Linked DNA regions of Homo sapiens: region 1 is linked to region 2. The links come from fine-mapping of genetic effects on plasma protein levels. A gene starts in region 2. The other region holds a variant in brackets. All regions are shown on one strand. Distances are between the middles of the regions.

Region 1 (12,646 bases), 130 kb before region 2:
CCACAACAACACACTTAATTGTCTGCATTGCTGAAATAGTTTTGTATCCACTTTAAATATTTCAAATCTGATGATGACCTGCAAAAAGATTAAAGACATTTGTTTATTTATACTTACATATGGATTTTTCTTCCTCACTTAGCAACAGGTTCAGGCACTCAGAGCAAGAAAAGAACTAGCACAATTATTATGGCTAAAAGAACCCAATAAGAGACACAATGACTTGCTATAAGTTACAATAACAAATAAGGTCCATTTCTAAGTTTCTGATCCCTGGCTATTCCAACTTCTTAAGTGTTATTTTTAAAAGGTCCAAAGTGGTGTGATAATCAGCGAATTTATTTTTATCATGAAAGAGAAGAGGCTGTATCAGAGAAAATTCCACAGTGTGCTAAATATTATTTTGTGAAAGCTGTTCTTCAGTTACACGTGCACACACACCTGTATGTATGCATGTATGTCAACTAGACTGCAATACAAAGGCCACTGCTTTAAAGAATGGTTCATGATCCAGCCTTATTCAGCCTTACTCAGGCTCTGACCAACAAGCAGCAGAGCACCACACGATCACACGGTAATTATATGAGTAACGTGAGGAACTGAACAAAGAACAGGGTGATCGCTGGCCTCAGCAGCTGTTTTAGCACCAGAATGCCTAGTCCAAAACCTACATTTTTATAATGAAAAAGTCAGATTGCTCTAAAGCATACTGACTTATAAACAGATACTATAGCTTCTCTTACTAGAGTCCTCCTCCATTTTAAGAAGCTATCAATTACAAGTACCAAAGAGTCATTAATTTGAGATGCTTTTTTTCATGTTAACATCTCTAAAGTCAGAATGTATCTTTGAGTCTCTTAGAATCATTATCAGCCATTTTTCCCCCACATTTTGACTTCTATGAAATTGGAATCTTAGATTCAATGAAATACTTTAACAGTTTTCTGAAAGAATAAAAAGAAACACCACCCAATATGTACCTAAATTTTAAGATTTATATTTAAATTAATTTAAATTATAATCCTAAAGGGGTTATAATTAAACATAAAAATACAGAACCACCTAACTCTTGGTCAGATGCCACCATGCTCCTATAGCACCATTCACAACAATTAATCATAACAATTTATAAATGCCTATTAACATCCCTGTAAATGAACCTATACTACCTCATGCACCACTATACTTCTAGCACTGAGCACTTCTAGACTGACACACTGTGAGTTGTTGATTGGATGCAAAAATCACGAAACAAAAGAACATGAAACTACATTAGTGTGAGTAACTCACATGAAATATACACTCTCCCGCTCCTCATCAAAATTATCTGCAGTATATTTTTCTTTTTTTTAGACAGGGTTTTACTCCCGTCACCCAGGCTGGAGTGCAGTGGCACAACCTCAGCTCACTGCAACCTCCACCTCCCAGACTCAAGCAATCCT[C/T]CCACCTTGGCCTCCCAAGTAGCTGGAACCACAGACGCATGCCACCATGCCCGGCTGGGTTTTTGTTTGGTTTTTGTTTTTTTAAGAGACGGGTCTCACTGTTACCCAGGCTGGTCTTGAATTCCTGGACTCAAGCAATCCACTCACCTCGGCCTCCCAAAGTCCCAGAGTGCTGGGATTACATGCATGAGCCACCGCAGCCAGCCATATTTATCCTTCTTTATTCAACTTCCTTTTATATCTCCTTTTTCCTTCTCCTTTCCCTTTTATGCACTAAGAAGCACCCATACTAACTAATACAGCATTAAAGATTAACAACCCTGATCCCTAAGATCAATCAATTACTGGTTAAATCTAAAAGCACTCAAATAATAATAGTAAGCAGCAAACACTCATACAGCATTTACTAAGTGCTATGTACTGTTCAAAACATATTACACATATTCACACATTTCATCCTCCCAAAAAGCCTATGAAGTATGTGCTGTATTATCCCTATTTTACAGATAAGAAGAGTGAGGCTCAGCAAGTAACTAAGCCAAGGCTATTCAGCCAGTAACTGGGAGAACTGTAATTTAAACCCAAGCAGTCTGACTCTCAAGTCCCTGCTTGTTGTGTGTGTGTGTGTGTGTATGTGTCAGTGCAGTGGCGTGATCTCTGCTCACTGCAACCTCTGCCTCCCGGGTTCAAGCGATTATCCTGCCTCAGCCTCCAGAGCAACTGGGATTACAGGTGCATGCCACCACGCCTGGATAATGTTTGTATTTAATAGAGACAGGGTTTCACCATGTTGGCCAGGCTGGTCTTGAACTCCTGACCTCAAGTAATCCAACTGCCTGGGCCCCTCAAAGTGCTAGGATTACAGGTGTGAGCCACCGTGCCCAACCTCAAGTCCCTGCTCTTGATAAACATTACATTACACTATACTGTCTGAGAAGTGACATTAATAAAAACAAATATAATCAGTGCTAGTGGAATGACAAGTATATATCCGTGAGTTACCAGCAATGCAAAGAGGAAAGCAAATATAAAGAAGAGGAAGCAAAAAATAGGGGCTAAGCTTATTTCCTGTTTTTCACCCTGCATATAACTACTGAATTTTATTGGGAGAAGGGAGTAAGATAAGAGTTTGTTCTTCCCCTTTCTATTTACCCACAAATCTTCCACTTCTTAGACTTCCCGACCTGACTGCTCTGCAATTTGTTACAAACTGGTTGGTTGTGAGTCCCCTGTTAAGCCTGGGTTCTGGAGTCAGAGTGGCTCTACCACACTCTAGCTATTCAACCTCTGTGTTATTCAACCTCTGTGTAGCTTGGTTTCCCCTTCTCTAAAAATGAAAACAGTACTACCTTTCTCATAAGGTAAACTAAGATAATACATGTAAAGAACTTGCAACAGTGCTTGGCATACAGTACATGCTTAGTACATGTTAATTATTAGTCTTTAACAAGTAATGGTAACTTTAAAGTCAATATAAGGAATTTTAAAACAGCAATTCCAAACTTCTTAGAAAGGAACTCATAACACTTTTTATCTCCAAGATAATTACAGTACAGTCAGCCCTCCATGTACACAGAGGCAGAACCCACAGATACAGATGGATAACTGTACTATGTAATTTTATATAAGAAACTTGAGCATTCCAGGATTGTTGTATCCTTGGAGAGTTCTGGAATCAATCCCCTGCAATATCAAGGGAAGATTATACTAATTGTTCTCAGCACAAATGTAGTCAAATGTAGAGTTACCATTACAAAGATGGTCATTTCAGAGTCAAGTTCTAATTAAGACTATTCTGCAAAGCATTTGGCATGTATTAATAATTGTTTCATGTGTTAAATAAAAACTATAGGAGGCTACCGTTGTGGACTAATCTCCTGCACTAGGCCCCAAGTGACCAGACTAAAAATCAAAACGGAGTTACTCATGCTAAAGTTTCACATCACTAAACTTAAATTTAGTTGTTATCTGACCTTCTGAGAAACAGGAGAGATGACAGCCAGTTTACCAAACAGGCCACTTTCAATCTTCAATTGGAATGATAATGAAGTTCCCTCTGCTTTAACCCTTACACAAAAAAAAGCAGCCTGAAGTAACCTGATATTAACTAATCAGTTATTTTTCTATTGTTCTGTCTTCTCCCTGTCCCTGCCTTACAAGAAAGGTAGCTCTGAAACAACTAATAGGCCCTTTGTTCTTTGCTTCCCCTTTCCTCAGCTCTTCTATTAAGCCAACCTCTTCTGCTCAACTCTGTTTTGTGGAATGAAGCACACTGCCCAACTCTAAAATCACAATAAAGCCAAGTGAGATTTAAATTTGTTGTAGTTTTGCCCTTTAACACATGTATTAAAGAGCACAGTGGCTCACCTGTAATCCTTGCACTTTGGGAGGCCAAAGTGGGAAGATCACTAGAGCTGAGGAGTTCAAGACCAGCCTGGGCAACATAGTTAAGACCTGACCTCTATTTCTTTTTTTCTTAATTTTTTTTCTTAATGTCACCAGATACTCCACAGATTGGGGTGGGTAAAGGGAGCAATCAGGGGAGAGACTTTGGGTTTTACAATATATATAAGTCAGACATGTTCATATACCCTATGTTAATCTCCTATTAAATAATGTCAAATCACTACGGCAGCAAAGAGGCCACATAGAAACAATTACCATTCTGCTAACCAGAAAAGTTATTCTGCGCTGGGCACGGTGCCTCATGCCTGTAATCCCAGCACTCTGGGAGGCCGAGGCAGGCAGATCACAAGGTCAGGAGATGGAGACCATTCTGGCTAACACGGTGAAACCCCATCTCTACTAAAAATACAAAAAATTAGCTGGGCATGGTGGCACGCACCTGTAGTCCCAGCTACTCAGGAGCCTGAGGCAGGAGAATCGCTTGAACTCGGGGGGCAGAGGCGCACTGCAGTGAGCCAAGATGGCGCCACTGCACTCCAGCCTGGGCAACACAGTGAGACTCCGTCTCAAAAAAGAAGAAAGAAAAAGAAAAGCTAAGTTATTTTGCACCAATAACTGAATCCTACCTCTTTTTAACAGTGAAGTTCATTTGTACCACAACTTAGAATTGGGGTTGGGCAACTTACAGCATAAAAAATGATTCTGCAGGGTCAGGCATGGTGGCTCACACCTGTAATCCCAGCACTTTGGGGGGACAAGGTGGGGAGATTGCTTGAACCCAGGAGTTTGGGACCAGCCTGGGAAACAGAGTGAGACCCCATCTCTACAAAAAAAAAAATTAGCTGGGTGAAGTGGCACACACCTGTAGTCCCAGTTACCAGGGAGGCTGAGGTGGGAGGATTGCTTGAGTCCAAGGCTGCAGTTGGCTATGATTGTGCCACTGCCCTCCAGGCTGGATGACAGAGCAAGACCCTGTCTCAAATATTTTTTTTAAAATGATTCTGCCAATCATAAGGAAATAAAATTGTGAAATAAGGTATATCTTCCTTCTGTCCTTCCTGGCATCTACCCCTCCAATACCCATATCTTCTAGGTTTTTTATTTTTCTTTTTTTTTTTTTGAGACAGAGTTTTGCTCTGTCACCCAGGCTGGAGTGCAATGGCGTGATCTCGGCTCACTGCAACCTCCGCCTCCAGGGTTCAAGCGATTCTCCCACCTCAGCCTCCCAAGTAGCTGGGATTACAGGCACGCACCACCATGTCTGGCTAATTTTTGTATTTTTTTAGTAGAGACGGGGTTTCGCCACATTGGCCAGGCTGGTCTCAAAATCCTGACCTCAGGTGATCCACCCACCTCAGCCTCCCAAAGTGCTGGGATTACAGGCACGAGCCATTGCACCTGGCCTCTTCCAGGTTCTTAACACTATGGGAATTCAAATATCCTTTAAGAATCTCAGAGCTATAGCACCTGAAATTTTAAGTCCACACACTACAGATTTTAAAAGGTTATGGAACCCTCTCTATGGTATCATTATGATTGGCTGGCTGCCATCTAAACTCCACCAGACAATCCCTGAGCAAACGATCTGTATGGAGGAAGGGGATACTCCCAGCTACAAATGCCCTATTTTCCCGTGCCCCATGGTTCATTCTAGGCACAGAGAGACAGCAACCTTAAGATTTGAGATTAAATATTTGCTAGTAAGTTTTACAAAAAATTTATATTCTCAATAAGATTACACCTCTTTTAAAACTATGTCAAGTATTAATAGTAACTGTGAATAAAAGGCAAGTCAAATTTTTGGTAATACACCAAATATTTGGCAATATTTGGTTTCCGTCCCCACTTCCTAGCAGAGAGCTCCTAAAAACCCTAGGAATTTCCTGAGTGCTGAGTGTCTCTTGTTTTTCATAACAAATTCACACCTGAATTTATGTTAATAAAGTGACAGGGTGGCGGTGGAAGGGATGCTAGGAAGCCTCAGGATGGGGCTGGTCACCAGAAAGGCAAAGTGACTAGAGGGATGTAACTTTCAGCCCCATGCACCAACCTCCAGAGAGGGGAGGAGGGCTAGAAACTGAGCTCTATGAAAACTCCAGAACAGAAGATTTGGAGAGCTTCCAGGTCTGTGAACATTTCAAGGTGAGGGGAAAGCAGGTCACCTGAATCCCTCCCCACCCACAACCGTGCCCTATGTATCTCTTCCATTTGGCTGTTCGTGAGTTGTACCCTTTATGACAAAGGCATAAAGGTAAGTAAAACGGCCAGGCACGGTGGTTCAAGCCTGTAATCCCAGCACTTTGGGAGGCCGAGGCGGGCAGATCATGAGGTCAGGAGATCGAGACCATTCTGGCTAACATGGCGAAACCCCGACTCTACTAAAAATACAAAAAATTAGCCAGGCGTGGTGGCAGGCGCCTGTAGTTCCAGCTACTCGGGAGGCTGAGGCAGGAGAATGGCATGAACCTGGGAGGCAGAGCTTGCAGTGAGCTGAGATCACGCCACTGTACTCCAGCCTGGGCAACAGAGCGAGACTCCATCCCAAAAAAAAAAAAAAAAAAAAAAAAGGTAAGTAAAACGTTTTCCTGAGTTCTATGAGTTGTTCTAGCTAATAATCAAACCTAAGAAGGGCCATGGGAATCCCAAAATTTGTAGTCTACTGGGCAGAGGTATAGGTAGCCTAGGCACTGCATTTGTAGCTGCTGCCTAAAGTGAGGGCAGTCTTCCAAGACTGAGCCCTTAAGCTGTGGGGTGGGAGTATCAGAATTAAACTGTTAGTATCAGAACTGAATTTTCTTTTTCTGACACCACATTCACTCTAATCCAAAACACACTAAAAGTAAAGTTGCCTTCATGTGAAATACGTTTGCCCCTGAAGTAACCCATTTTCATACTTAGGATACAAGAAAGAAGAGGCACTACAGGAATCAAGAGAATGACCCAATTTCACAATCTTCCTTATCAGTTCAACAGAAGGACTAGTCTGGTTGTAGGATTAAACAGAATAAAATCAAAACTACTTGTCTCTCCTGTCAAATCCAGCCACTTTGGAAAATGCAGCTTATATAACCTTCTGCTGTAAGTTATAGTAGCATATCTAACGTACAATTTTTTAAACACCTACCCATGCATGTGATTTTTAGGCAACCAAAAGTACTCAAACCACAGCAATGTATTCCATGCATTCACACACGTATGCAAGTGTGCTAACAAACTGTCTTGTTTGCAGAACTTCTTGTTTGCTTCTATATCACAGAAGACATGTAACAAAAAGCATACAGCTGGCCTTATATGTTTGTTAGAAATGCTTGTTCCGACCGGGTGCGGTGGCTCACACCTGTAATCCCAGCACTTTGGGAGGCCGAGGCGGATGGATCACGAGGTCAGGAGATCGAGACCATCCTGGCTAACATGGTGAAACCCCGACGCTACTAAAAATACAAAAAAATTAGCCGGGCGTGGTGGCAGGCGCCTGTAGTCCCAGCTACTCGGGAGGCTGAGGCAGGAGAATGGCGTGAACCCGTGAGGCAGAGCTTGCAGTGAGCCGAGACCGCGCCACTGCACTCCAGCCTGGGCAACAGAGCGAGACTCCATCTCAAAAAAAAAAAAAAAGAAAGAAAAAAAAAGAAATGCTTGTTCCTCAGTGCCGTAAAGAAATAGCACTTGAACATAAATTTAATTTTCTCAGCAAGGCCATTTATACCTTCTGCAGAAAGGATACACTTGCCAGCAGTTTTGCCACAAAAGTACACCGAGCAAAGGAGACAGGGTCATTTATAACCTGACGTGTCTATCCTACTGCTGTGTCCGGTTTTTATTGGCTGGAACGGGACCTCACGTTTTGTATTTGTCCTGATAGGCTAGCAACTTACAACTTTTAAAAAGAGGCAAAGAAGGCCAGGCGTGGTGGCTCACGCCTGTAATCCCAGCATTTTGGAAGGCCGAGGCAGGCGGATCACGAGGTCAAGAGATCAAGACCAGCCTGGCTAACACAGTGAAACCCTGCCTCTGTTAAAAATACAAAAAAATCAGCTGGGCGTGGTGGTGGACGCCTGTAGTCCCAGCTACCTGGGAGGCTGAGGCAGGAGAATGGCATGAACCTAGGAGGCGGAGCTTGTAGTGAGCCAAGATCATGCCACTGCACTCCAGCCTGAGCAACAGAGCGAGACTCTGTCTCAAAAAAAAAAAAAAAAAAAAAAAAAAAAAAAAAAAAAAGAGGCAAAGGCAGAGGACAACAAAGGAAGGAGGAAGTAACTTGTGGAATGCTGAGAAAGGTAAAAATACCTTTAAACAGGCTATGACCTAATGCTTGCTTGGACCAGTATAAGCATGCCAGGGCAAATATTTAGGCTAAATTGTGGGAGCTAAGAACATAAAGTACACTGATTTATTTATTACAGCTAGCAGATATTTAAGAATGTTAGCAAAGGTCTTTGAATAAATTTTGCTTTTAAGAGAAGTTACTATTTATTTCTGATTAGATGTGGGGGAAGTCTTTGAAGAGGAATCTCTACTTTACTTTTTACATGTTCAATTAAGAATACAACATTGCTTAGAAAATCCTACCCAGAGGCTGGGCACAGTGGCTCAAGCCTACAATCCCAGCACTTTGAGAAGCCAAGGAAGGTGGATTGCTTGAGGCCAGGAGTTTGAGAACAACCTAGGCAACGTGGCAAAACTGCGTCTCTACCAAAAATACAAAAATTAGCTGGGCATGGTGGCATGCGCCTGTGGTCCCAGCTACTTGGGAGGCTGAAGATCATCCGAGCCCAGGAGACGGAGGTTGCAAGTAAGCCAAGATTATGCCACTGCACTCCAGCCTGGGCAACACAGGGAGATGCTATCTCAAAACAACAACAACAAAAACAAACAAACAAAAAAACCTCTACCAAGGCTGGGTGTGGCGGCTCACGCCTGTAATCCCAACACTTTGGGAGGCCAAGGCAGGAGGATCACTTGAGCCCAGCAAATCAAGACCAGCTTGGGCAACATGACAAAATCCCATCTCTACAAAAAATTAAAAAAAAAAAAAAAAAAAAAAAAAAGTGGTGGCATGTGCCTGTAGTCCCAACTACTGGGGAGGCTGAGGGGAGAAACCACCTGAGCCAGGAAGGTCAAGGCTACAGTGAGCTGTAGTCACACCACTGCACTCCAGCCTGGGTAAGAGAACAAGACCCTGTTTCGGCCAAGCGTGGTGGCTCACGCCTATAATCCCAGCACTTTGGGAAGCTGAGGCGGGCAGATCACTTGAGGTCAGGAGTTCGAGACCAATCTGGCCAACATGGTGAAACCCAGTCTCTACCAAAAATACAAAAATTTGCCAGGTGTGATGGCGCTCACCTGTAGTCCCAGCTATTTGGGAGGGTGAGGCAGGAGAATTGCTTGAACCCAGGAGGCAGAGGTTGCAATGAGCCGTGATTGTGCCACTGCACTCCAGCCTGGGGACAGAGTGAGATTCTGTCTCAAAAAAAAAAAAAAAAAAAAAAAAGGAATAAAATGGAGATTACAATAAGATGTTTTCCTCAAAATACTCAAGACTTGTAGATCTACTCATTCATCTACTCATTCATTCAACAAGCCTTTACTAAGTACCTACCACGTGCCAAGCTTTGTCCTATACGTAGGCACACCCCACAATTCACATAACAAAGTTCACGCCCTCTTGGAGCAACAATTCCAGTGGGGTACACAGACAATAAACAAGCATCACCCCCTACATATTCTTCCTTCAATAATACTACCAACTGACATCCTTACATGTAACTTTCTCATTCTAGTCTCTTAACTAAGAAACAGCAGGTGGCCAGAACACAGCACAAGCTGAAGCCAGCATGGCACCTGAGCACAAGACCAAGTTCTCCAAGAACCTGCTGTACATGAAGTTCATGCAAAGAAGACTGGACTCAGAAACTAAGAAATGACTAGAAGAGGAAGAAAATAAAATTAGTTAAGAGCACTGGTACTCAGATTTGCCAGAGCTTAATAAGTAAAGAATTTCATAACAGAAGAGCAGCATCTCTTGTTATGTGAAGATCATTTCTATGGAAGGAATTTCATTCATCAGATTTACTCCTGAGGTTGAGAAATTAGTGCTTCAGGTGAATACTAAGAACAAAGCAGAAATTGAAGATGAAACAGTGGAATTTTACGTGTCAGATGAAGAAGAAATGGCTAGAAGAAATGGCTAGAATATGAGACCTTGGTGGGGACAACAGGAAAAAAGTCTGCCAAAAAGGGAGATCAAGCCAATTATGAAGACAATGAAAATGGAGACCTACAACTAATTAAAGCAAAGAAAATGTTCTTAAAGCCCCGGGATCAAAATACAGAACTTAAGAGATGGCTCAGAGATGCCTTGTGAAAGTTAGCAGCATGTTTTGTAACTAGTTCTGATGGTGCCTCTATAGTTATTAATACTATAACGTTTATTTGTAAAGAGATGTATAATTTTGGAAACATGCTGTTTTTGAAACAGATGTGTAATGGATGTCATACATCCTCTGCTAAATGGTACTGAGTGGATTTTTAGCCCTTGATCTTCAAATATACAGGTTTCCTAAAGATTTTTTTTGTTTTTGAGACAGGGTCTCACCCTGTCACCTAGGCCAGAGTGGAGTGGCTCAATCACAGCTCACTGCAGCGTCAACCTTCCTGGGCTCAAGGGATCCTCCCATCTCAGCCAAATCTTGGGTGTCTGGCCTTACAACTCACCCTATTTTCAAGCTACCCTTCCACTACAAAACCTCTCCTTCTCTGAGACCTTTCCTAACTAGTCTAGGTATTGAAACTGCCCCAACCGCCTGACCACCTGCTATGTTTGTGTCCCAAAATTCATAAGCTGACACCTGATCACCAGTGTGACGTTGTTAGAAGGTGAGACTGCTGGGAGGTGATTAGGTCCAGAGGGCAGAGTCCCCTCATCCCCAAATGGGATTAGTGGCCTTATAAGACACCCCAGAGAGCTCCCCTACCCCTTGCACCATGCAAGAAGACACAGCAAAAAGGAACAAACTGGTATGGGCGCAGTGGCTCAGGCCTGTAAACCCAGCACATTGAGAGGCCGAGGCAGGCGGATCATCTGAGGTCAGGCGTTCGAGACCAGCCTGGCCAACTTGGTGAAACCCTGTCTCCACTAAAAATACAAAAATTAGCCGGTGGCGCATGCCTGTAACCCCAGCTACTCAGGAGGATCGCTTGCTTGGGAGGTAGAGGTTGCAGTGAGCTGAGAGCACCAAAGCGAACTTGGGAGGCGGAGGTGGGAGTGAGCTAAGATCACCACTGCACTCCAGCCTGGGAAACAGAGTGAGACCGTCAAAAAAAGAAAAAGAAGAAAAGAAAAAACCAGCATCTATGAACCACAAAGCAGGCCCTCACCAAACATCAAATACGCCAGCACCCCAATATTGTCCTTCCCAGGATGCAGAACTGTGATAAGTTTCTGTCGTTTACAAGCTACCCAGTCTATGGTATTGTTAAAGAAGCCTAAACGGACTAAACAGAACCCATGGCAAGGCCCTTCTTCTTGCCTTCTCAAACCTTCTCATGCTCCGTTCCCCTGTACTCTCCATGCTCTAGCTACACAGGTCTCTTACCTCCCCAGACGTGCCAGGCTCTGTCCTGCCTTCAGGTCTTTTTTGGCCCAATCTCTGCTCACCACAACCTCCGCCTCCCAGGTTCAAGCGATTTTCCAGCCTCAACTTCCTGAGTAGCTGGAATTACAGGCATGTGCCACCACACCCGGCTAATTTTGTATTTTTAGTAGAGACGGGGTTTCTCCATGTTGGTCAAGCTGGTCTCAAACTCCCAACCTCAGGTGATCCGCCCACCTCGGCCTCCCAAAGTTCTGGAATTACAGGTGTGAGCCACTGCACCCGGCCATGCCTTGAAGTCTTTACCAACAACACTCCTGCCCCTGCTCTTAAAGCTTTTGGCTTCTCACTCTCCAGATCTCAGCTCGAATCATCATCTCCTCCAAAAGTCCTCCCCTGACCACATTATCCAGGGCAATAGTACCCTCCCTCCTTACACTCCTTTCATATTACCTTATTTCCTTTATTGTAAGGTCATAATCTATAATTATCTTGTTTATCTGTCATATGGCAGTAGAAACAGACTTTTAAAAATAAGGAAATCTCCATAAAGGTAATAACTGCTGTATGCCCACAAAATAGCTCAATACCAGTCACACAGGACACACTCACCGAATAAATGAATCACAGGAGTAATTAACCATGTTATTTTTAGTCACATATGCTTACTTTATTCTAATAGATTTTTTTTTTTGGAGACAGGGTATCACTCTGTCACCTAAGCTGCAGCACAGTGGCGCAATTTCAGCTTACTGCAACGTCTGCCTCCCACGCTCAAGCGATTCTCCTGCCTCAGCCTCCCAAGTAGCTGAGACTACAAGCATGCACCACCTCACCTCACCCAGCCCCTCTAATAGATTTTAAGCTCTCTGAGAGAACAACTAGGCTTATACTTCTTTATTCCCCGTCCCAATGCAGCCAATACAATACTGAACAGTATATTAAGGGCAAGAAAAAATAAAATTCTTAAATGTCTTTTACAACTTTGTTGACTAAAGTAGTAATATGAAAAAAACGCCCAGGCACAGAGGCCTGTAATCCCAACACTTTGGGAGGCCAAGGTGGGTCAATTATTTGAGGTCAGCAGCTCAAGACAAGCCTAGCCAACATGGTGAAATCCCGTCTCTGCTAAAACTACAAAAAATTAGCCAGGCATGGTGGCGCACACCTGTAATCCCAGCTACTCGGGAGGCTGAGGCTTGAGAATCG
Region 2 (8,000 bases):
AGATTTTAAAAGGATTTTCCATAAAAACCACTGGGTTCCGTTCTCAAAGAGGTTGAGGAAGGCTGGATTAAACACAGTTGCACAGGCGACTTCACTGGAGGCCTATTCAAAACCCTTCCTGCTTTGGTGTCCCTTGAGGTGGTCAAAGTGTGGGAAAGAGTGCAGGGTACCCAAACTTCTTTGGCCAAAGAACCTCTTTTTCAAAGAGCATCTCAGATTGCAGGTGACCCATGAGGCACAGTGTGGGAACCCTGCCTTGGGCCTGGGACCCCAGTCCAAGAAAGCAATTGATAATGATGAAGGGTAGTGGGGAAACATCAAGTTGGGGCAGGGGGTCAAATACAAGAGCTTTCAGAAGATTCACGCTTCTGCCTGAGCTGGGAGAAGCGCACTTGTGCCTGGCCAGAGTTGAGAACAGCCCACAGGGAGGCAGAATGGGTGTGGTTGAGAATGGGAGTTTGTAGAATCAGACCGACATGGACATGAATCCTGGTTCTACCTCTTACTGACTGCATGACCTGGGCAAGCCACTTCATCCCCTGGGCCTCAGTTTTCCCAGCTGGAAAGGGAGGGGAATAATAAAATGTACTGCCTTGCCTGCTCCCCAGGGTTTATCTTTGTTCCAAGCACAAACCAGAACAGGGACATTTACACTGTGTGCCACGTTTGAACTAATGTCTTGTTCTTTCATTTAAGTAACAATTATCCAAATGCCAACTCTGTGCCACACACTGTGCTCTTCACAGGGGATATAATTGGGACCAAGACAGAAACAAGACCTTCATGCCCTCTGCCTTCATTATGCCTCATAATATTAAATGATCTTCCAAATAATTACAATGGTCAAAAATGCTACAAGAAAAGCATGGCGGGGGGGGCGCTGTGGGAAAGTGTGGTGGGGAACACGACCTCGCTTGGGAGGTCAGAGAAGATTTCTGTGGTCATGTGATGTTTGGACTCAATCTTAAGGGAGAGTAGAGTGAAGGGGGATGGGTGTTAACTGGGAAAAGCACTTAGGAGAGGGAACAGCATCTGCAAAGACTATGGTGGGGAAGGGCTGTGGCTGGATTGATGGGCAGGACTAGATCATGCCAGGCCTTGTGGGGTCCCCGCCCTCTCCATGGGAACTTTTGCTGCCTGCTTAGACCCACCTCCTGCCTCCTCTTCCTCCTCTTCTTCAGTACTATCTTCTTGTTTTTTCTCCTCCATCTCAATTCTCTTTCACACCAATTTCTGACTCTTCATTTTCACCCAAGGACATATTGTTACTCTATTAGCATTTGTTTTCCCACATGGACATAGAAACTCTCGTGGGCAGTGTTTAGTTTCACTATTGAATGAATATAGGGCCACAGCTAGCCTTACAGTGCCTTCACTCATATCAGCAAAAAGTACCCATTCTGGGCCGGGTGCAGTGGCTCACGCCTGTAATCCCAGCACTTTGGGAGGCCGAGACGGGTGGATCACTTGAGGTCAGGAGTTCGAGACCAGCCTGGCCAACATGATGAAACCCTGTCTCTACTAAAAATACAAAAAATTAGCCAGGTGTGGTGGCATGTGCCTGTAATCCCAGCTACTTGGGAGGCTGAGGCAGGAGAATCGCTTGAACCCAGGAGGCAGAGGTTGCAGTGAGTTGAGATCGTGCCACTGCACTCCAACCTGGGCAACAGAGCAAGATTCTGTCTCAAAAAGAAAAAAAAAAGTACCCATTCTGGGCAGATGTAGCCCCACAACAGGGCCCATTACAGTTCCTATTTACCCACTTGGCTGCACACCTTTGTTCAGTGAACAACCTGCGCAACTGTCCACTGCAGCCCTGAATGAATGAATGAATGGACAAAGGAATGTGATTAAGATGAATGATAAGCTCTCAGGCAGAGAAAAGATTTGGAATGGGAGTGGAAGCCAGAAGATGAGTCCTACTGAATTTGGAGGAGTGGACAGGTAAGCCACAAACTCCAGCTGCTGGTTCCAGAACCCCCAACACCTATTCTCAGAAGTCAAGCTGTTTGACTATTTCTGCCTATCCAAGCTGTTGTAGTCTCTCCGTGCCCAGGGAACCTTGTATGAGACTTGAGTTGTTTCTCTCCTCGAGTGTGACCAGCACCCTGAACTCTGTGTACATACAGTGAGATTATGGGCGCCTCCAAGGTTTTGCCAAGCCCAGAAGGCCTTGTGCCTGCTCCTCTTCTTAGCCATATGAGGAGATAGCCAGGCTCTAGACAAAGCAACTTGAGAGCATTTGCTAAAGATATCAAGGACTGCAAACTAAAACAGACCCAGGCAAATCCCTTAGTGGGAAGGAGAGGACACAGAATAAATAGGTGGATGACCAATCCTCCGCTGCTGGAGCCGCCCTGGAAGACTTTCTCAACATGCCATATATTCCTGCTTTCTGCGTGTCAGCCCAGCTCCTTCCAGTCCCTAGTCGGCCTTACCATCTCTTTCCTCAACCCCTTTGAGGAAGGAAGACTTATAGCTCTGGGTTAGTCTTGACCAAACATCTACAAAGGGTTGCTTGTTTCCCTTTTTTTCCCCCTTTGCTCATGAGCAAATCATCCAAGAAGCCAAAGCTCTGGTACTTAAAGGGCCCGAGGTAGGGAACAGACACTGAGGCAGCTCATGAAATGCGATTTGTCACGGATGCTGACAAATCCATGGACAGGCAAGGCCTTGGAAAAATCCTGCCACTAGGGCTGGCCACCTGCCAGCTCTGAAGTCAGTGGAGTTTTGAAGCCTTTCTCATCGGACAGGGAGTTTCCAAGTGCAAACCTGGTGTACTCTCCCCTCAAATGGGAGGTCCCTGGGGTGGCTGTGGAGGCTGCTCCTCTATCAGACCTCAGCTCCCCAAGGGCCAAGTCATGTCTCTCTCTTTAGATTGGGAGCACACCAGAAATAGTAATAAGAGAAATGGCTACCACTTATTTCATGCTTACCAAGTGTCTGAAATGGCTGTGTTTTTTAAAAGAAATATATTAATTTATCTTAATTCTCATAACAACACTAAGAGAGACGTCTTAACGTTATTCTCATTTTCTACATGCAGAGACTGAGACATGGAAGTTGAATCATGTGCTCAAGATTGCACGGCTAGGTGGTGGAGGCAGGATTCTCTATCAGACTGAGAACAATACCCGGACAGGGACTATTCTTCCCCACACCTCTATCAGATTAAGAGTTTACTGAGGGCCAAGATTGGGCGTCCCTCCTCTGTCCACCCCTATCTCCCTGTGCGGATCAGAGATAGACCTTATTCAGTGCTGTGCCTGGAGCCTGGGTTGGGGCCAGGCAGTTGGCCTGACTACCGTGGATGCAATTTCTGTTCTTTACAACTCTGAGCTGGTCCCACAGAAATATGCCCCACAGGGCATATTTTGGAGATATCTTTTGGAGATAGGGGATCTATCTGGGATGGGGGTCAGGATGCCAGTGTTTTTTCAATCCCCCAGATGCCTGGATGAGAGGCCCCAATGTGCTTGGGAGCCTGCGGACCCCTATCACAGGGAACATAGCTTCCGGAGCCAGGCCTGGTGCCGCCCAGTGAGCTGGGCATTTCCTTCTGTCCACAGCTCACCTCACTCCTGGCTGCAAACCCAGCCATGAGTTTCTGGAACCTAGCAACTCTCACAGGAAACAATGGAAACTTCAGTTTTATTCTCCTCCTCTATCATTACTCAAAAGGTTTTCCTCAAAGCTACACACACATAGTTTTCCTCTCCACCCATCAGCCTCGGGCTGCCCTGGAAATTTCAGGCAGAAGAGGGGAGCTGAAGAGTAGGCAGTGAATAGGTCTGGGGGCTTGGTGCTGTTTGCTGCCTGCGGTTGGGTCAGAGACAGATCATGGGGCTGTGATTTTACCACCCACCCGAGCATCTGTGATGGGGCTTTGGCAGGGTCTGTCTGTCTGGGCCTGAGTGTGTGAGTTGGTGTGGTTCTGGCTCTGGGGCTGTGATTTATGTGACTCAAAGTTGGTGTGTGAGTGATTTACATGGAAAATGGTGCAGGTGGGGTGGGCAGCTCAGTTCAGTACCCAGTGCCCACTATGAGGCACTGTGATTAGTGGGTGAGAACAGGTAAAAGATACAGGCTGAGGCTGGGTGCGGTGGCTCAATGCCTGTAATCCCATCACTTTGGGAGGGCAAGGCGGGCAGATCACAAGGTCAGGAGTTCGAGACCAGCCTGGCCAACATGGTAAAAACCCCATCTCTATTAAAAATACAAAAATTAGCCAGGCGTGGTGGCACGCCTGTAATCCCAGCTATTCAGGAGGCTGAGGCCGGAGAATTGCTTGAACCCGGAGGCGGAGGTTGCAGTGAGCCAAGATCCCACCACCGCACTCCAGCCTGGGGACAGAGCGAGACTCCTTCTCAAAAAAAAAAAAAAAAAAAAAAACAAGCTGGTAAGCATGTAGGCAATGATGTGGGCCTGTGTGTGAAATGTGCGTGCCTGCGAGGAATCTATGTGAAAAGGCGTCCTCCCGCTCCGTGACTTGTTGGGATGTATGCGTGAGTGAGGGGCTGAGTGTGGTGTGAGGGCTGTCTCCTGTGTCCCTGGTGGAGGTGAGAGTTTGGAAGCGAGTTAAGTGTGCATGTGAGCCGGTGAGGATTGTTGGTACTTCAGAGTTGGGTCCAGAGTGTGAAAGTGTTCCCGGGTAGCGCACAAGTGTGTTCGTGCAGTAAAGTTATGGTGTGAAGGTGTTCTTGGGTGTGGAAGTTGGCGTGCACGTGTGGCGCGGAGCGGCAGCTGCGTGCGTGTGAGCGTGGGAAGGAGATCCCGGGATCTTCAAAAGCTGCGCGAGTGGAGTCGGCCGTGCGGGGCGTGCAGGGGCGTGGAAGTCGGCGGCGCGCGCGGGGAAGCGGGGGAGCCGGGGATCGGGGAGGCGAGAGCGCCTGGCCCGGCGGCCCCATCCCATGCCCGGGCCCGGGCCCCCGGTCCCCCGCCCCGTCCCATCCCATACTCCAGGCCGGGTTTGGCGGGGAGCCGGGCCGGGCCGCGGCCCGCGCGGAGGGGGCTGGGGGCCCAGACAAAGGCCTAGTAGGCTGCGCGGCCGGCTGGGGCGAGCAGAGCCCGCGGCCCGGGGGCGGTCCGTGGGCGGGGCCTGGCGCTCCGGGGAGGGGCGGTTCGGGGGCGGGGCCGGCGCTGCGGGGGCGGGGCGGGCGGGGAGGAAAGGGGGCGGTGGGGAGAGGGCCGCGCTGTCCCGAGCTGGCCGGCGAGCGGGCGGCTGCGGGCGGCGCGGAGCGGGCGGCGCGGAGCGAGCGAGCGAGAGAGCGGCGCGGGCCGGGCCATGGGGTGGCGGGCGGCGGGCGCGCTGCTGCTGGCGCTGCTGCTGCACGGGCGGCTGCTGGCGGTGAGTGTGCGGGGCAGAGGGGCGGGGGGCGGGGGCGGAGGGGCTAGGGGCGCCCCGGTCCCGCTCGCCGCCTCCCGCCAACTTGGCTGGGGCGCCCAAGGCTGCGCGGCGGGGACTCTGGCCCGGGACGGCGGCGCCCGCCGGGGACCCCGGGCCGGCGCCACCCTGCGGCATGGGGCTAATCCAGGGGGGCCACCAGTCAGGACCCTTCGTGGGGCTGGGGGCGGGGCTGGCCCGTGTGGGAGCCCGTGGGTCTCTCGGCCACGTTGCCGAGTGCTGGAGTCTCGCTGGGCATGGTCCGGCCTACCATTCCTGGGGACCAGGAGGGGAAACTTTGAGCAGGGTGGGAACTTGGCAGGACGAGGGAACCCTTCTGCGCCAGCTTGGCAGAACGGCCACTCAGTGGTGATGGGGACCCTATGAGTCTCGCTGAAACTTTACCACACCGTCTATCACCTTGGGGAGCTTGGACCCAGGTAGGCACAAGCAAAACTTTTGGGACAGAACTGAAGCTTGTGTGGAACACCCACGGGCCTTGGAGTCATACAGCCGAAGAGTTGAATCAATCCCTGCCTTTCACTGAGTAACTGTGTGACCTGGGGCACGCTAGTTAACCTCTCTGAGGCCAGCCCCACGTGGGTCAAGGGAACTCAAAATGCACGGCCTCAAAATGCATAGCTGCAGGGCGTTGCTGGACTGCGTGGAATGAGCTGCAAAGTGCGTGGTGCGGGGATGCAGTGCACCCTTGGGGGACCCGAGTTCCCCAGCTTTCCTCTTCCCAGGTCTCCAAGAGGCAGGGAGAGGCCTGCCCTTGCAGTCTAGTCCCCTACTCTGAGCTTAGGTGGAGGAAAAGGGAATTCTACGGTCAGGAATCCCGAGGCTTAGAAGGCACTTGGCCAGCAGAGGCCCTGAGGACCTGAGTGAACTTGAGGAGGACTGGGTGGGGTCGGTGGGCAGGGAGCTAGTGGCAGATGTGGGTGGGGGCACATCTGGGGAGCCGAGCCTACCGTGGGGAGCCACAGAGCCACCCCCACTCTCTCCGAGGTGCTCCTAGGCAGTCCCCATACCTGCCTCCCTGTTCTCTGAGCCAAGAGAGGGACTTTTCTAACCAGGCTGGTGTTTACCCAGGAACTGCCTGCCTGGCCTCACCTTCCTGGCTTCATCGCACCTCTACCCTCCTGAGTCACTCGTCAAGCCCCCACCCAGACCTGGCTCCTCACTGCTCTTGCCCCACCCACCCAGCACTTCTCCTCCCCCATCCCCACTCTGGGCAGCCTCCTCTGTCGTCCTCCTGTTTCAGCCTCTCACCCCAAAATATTCAGCAGGGCCATCCAGTAGCTCCCTAGTCTTGACCTGAACTTGCACTCCTGGCACTGACTTTTACTTTTCCCAACGCACCAACCTAGCACGTGGGATGTTTTCCGAGGCCCAACAGTCTTTCCTGACCTTCCCCCAGCTCTGCCCCCGATGAGGGGCTCCTCCATGCCCGGGTGCGGTAGGATGGCGGTGGGTGGAGTTGTTTGCTGTGTGCATGAGGAATTTCCACAGACATTCCTGGACCGTGGCAGATCATCTCATTCACTTGTTCATTCAACAGATCATCACTGAGCGACATTCCATGGCAGTCACTGGGAGTACAGAGGTTCATTCTTTGGGCAGATATTTGCCATGCACCTACTGTGTGCCAGTGAACCAGTGAACCTCGTGTGGTGCTAGGGGCTGGGGTGGGTTGGACCAGCAAGGACAGGCCCTGTCTGTGCCTTCCCAGCACTCACAGGCTGGTGGGCGGTAATTTAGACAAATAAACAGGCAGCTCCAATCCTGTGGGATTAGAGAGCCTTCTCAGCAACACATGGAGGGTCGCTGTCCCACCCCAGGCTGCTGGTGGTGGGCTGGAAAGAGCTTGGCCCCTGAAGTCTCTTTATAAAATTCTTTTTAAAAAGTTTTTCAGGCCAGGCGCGGTGGCTCATGCCTGTAATCCCAGCACTTTGGGAGGCCACGGTGGGCGGATCACGAGGTCAGGAGTTTGAGACCAGCCTGGCCAACATAGTGAAACCCCATCTGTACTGAAAATACAAAAATTAGACGGGTGTGGTGGCGCATGCTTGTAATCCCAACTACTCGGGAGGCTGAGGCAGGAGAATCGCTTGAACCCAGGAGGCGGAGGTTGCAGTGAGCTGAGACCACACCATTGCACTCCAGCCTGGGTGACAGAGTGAGACTCCGCCTCAAAACAAACAAACAATAAAAAGTTTTTCGGGGCCAGGCGCGGTGGCACACGCCAGTAATCCCAGGACTTTGGGAGGCCGAGGCGAGCGGATCATGAGGTCAGGAGTTCAAGATCAGCCTGGCCAGCATAGTGAAACCCTGTCTCTACTAAAAATGCAAAAAGTTAGCCAGGCATGGTGGCACGTACCTGTAGTCCCAGCTACTCCGGAGGCTGAGGCAGGAGAATGGCGTTAACCCGGGAGGCGGAGCTTGCAGTGAGCCGAGATCGCGCCACTGCACTCCAGCCTGGGCGACAGAGCAAGACTCTGTCTCAAAAAAAAAAAAAGAGGGCATCACACTTTGTTGCCCAGGCTGGTCTCAAACTCCTGGCCTCAAGCGATCCTCTCGCCTCGGTCTCCTAAAGTGTTGGGATGACAGGCATAAG

Which allele goes with the higher level. Positions count from the first base shown, and alleles are read on the strand shown. Strength reflects both the effect of a copy and how common the allele is.
As copies of T replace C in region 1, the plasma level of the protein whose gene starts at base 5,192 in region 2 goes down (weak association).

Evidence for each region. PIP is the chance, under the fine-mapping model, that this variant and not a neighbour inherited with it causes the effect. Protein levels are from antibody-based Olink assays in UK Biobank. Linkage for the fine-mapping came from a reference panel and not from the study's own genotypes, which makes the PIPs less certain.
Region 1: its variant is fine-mapped to the plasma level of the HSPG2 protein (UK Biobank, PIP 0.98).

Annotation. Positions count from the first base shown.
Region 1 is chr1:22,065,861-22,078,506 of GRCh38, reverse strand. CDC42 (cell division cycle 42) reads right to left here. Exons shown (of 6, transcript NM_001791.4): 2 at 1-78. The coding sequence starts at 28. It also overlaps the pseudogene MPHOSPH6P1. Among named protein-coding and RNA genes, the nearest start is that of CDC42, 19 kb to the right of the region's middle. RefSeq lists a silencer at 573-652. The variant C/T (reference allele first, on the strand shown) is at 1,443.
Region 2 is chr1:21,934,502-21,942,501 of GRCh38, reverse strand. It overlaps HSPG2 (heparan sulfate proteoglycan 2), which reads left to right and starts at 5,192. Exons shown (of 97, transcript NM_005529.7): 1 at 5,192-5,347. The coding sequence starts at 5,285. RefSeq lists a silencer at 4,804-5,153 and an enhancer at 5,901-6,742.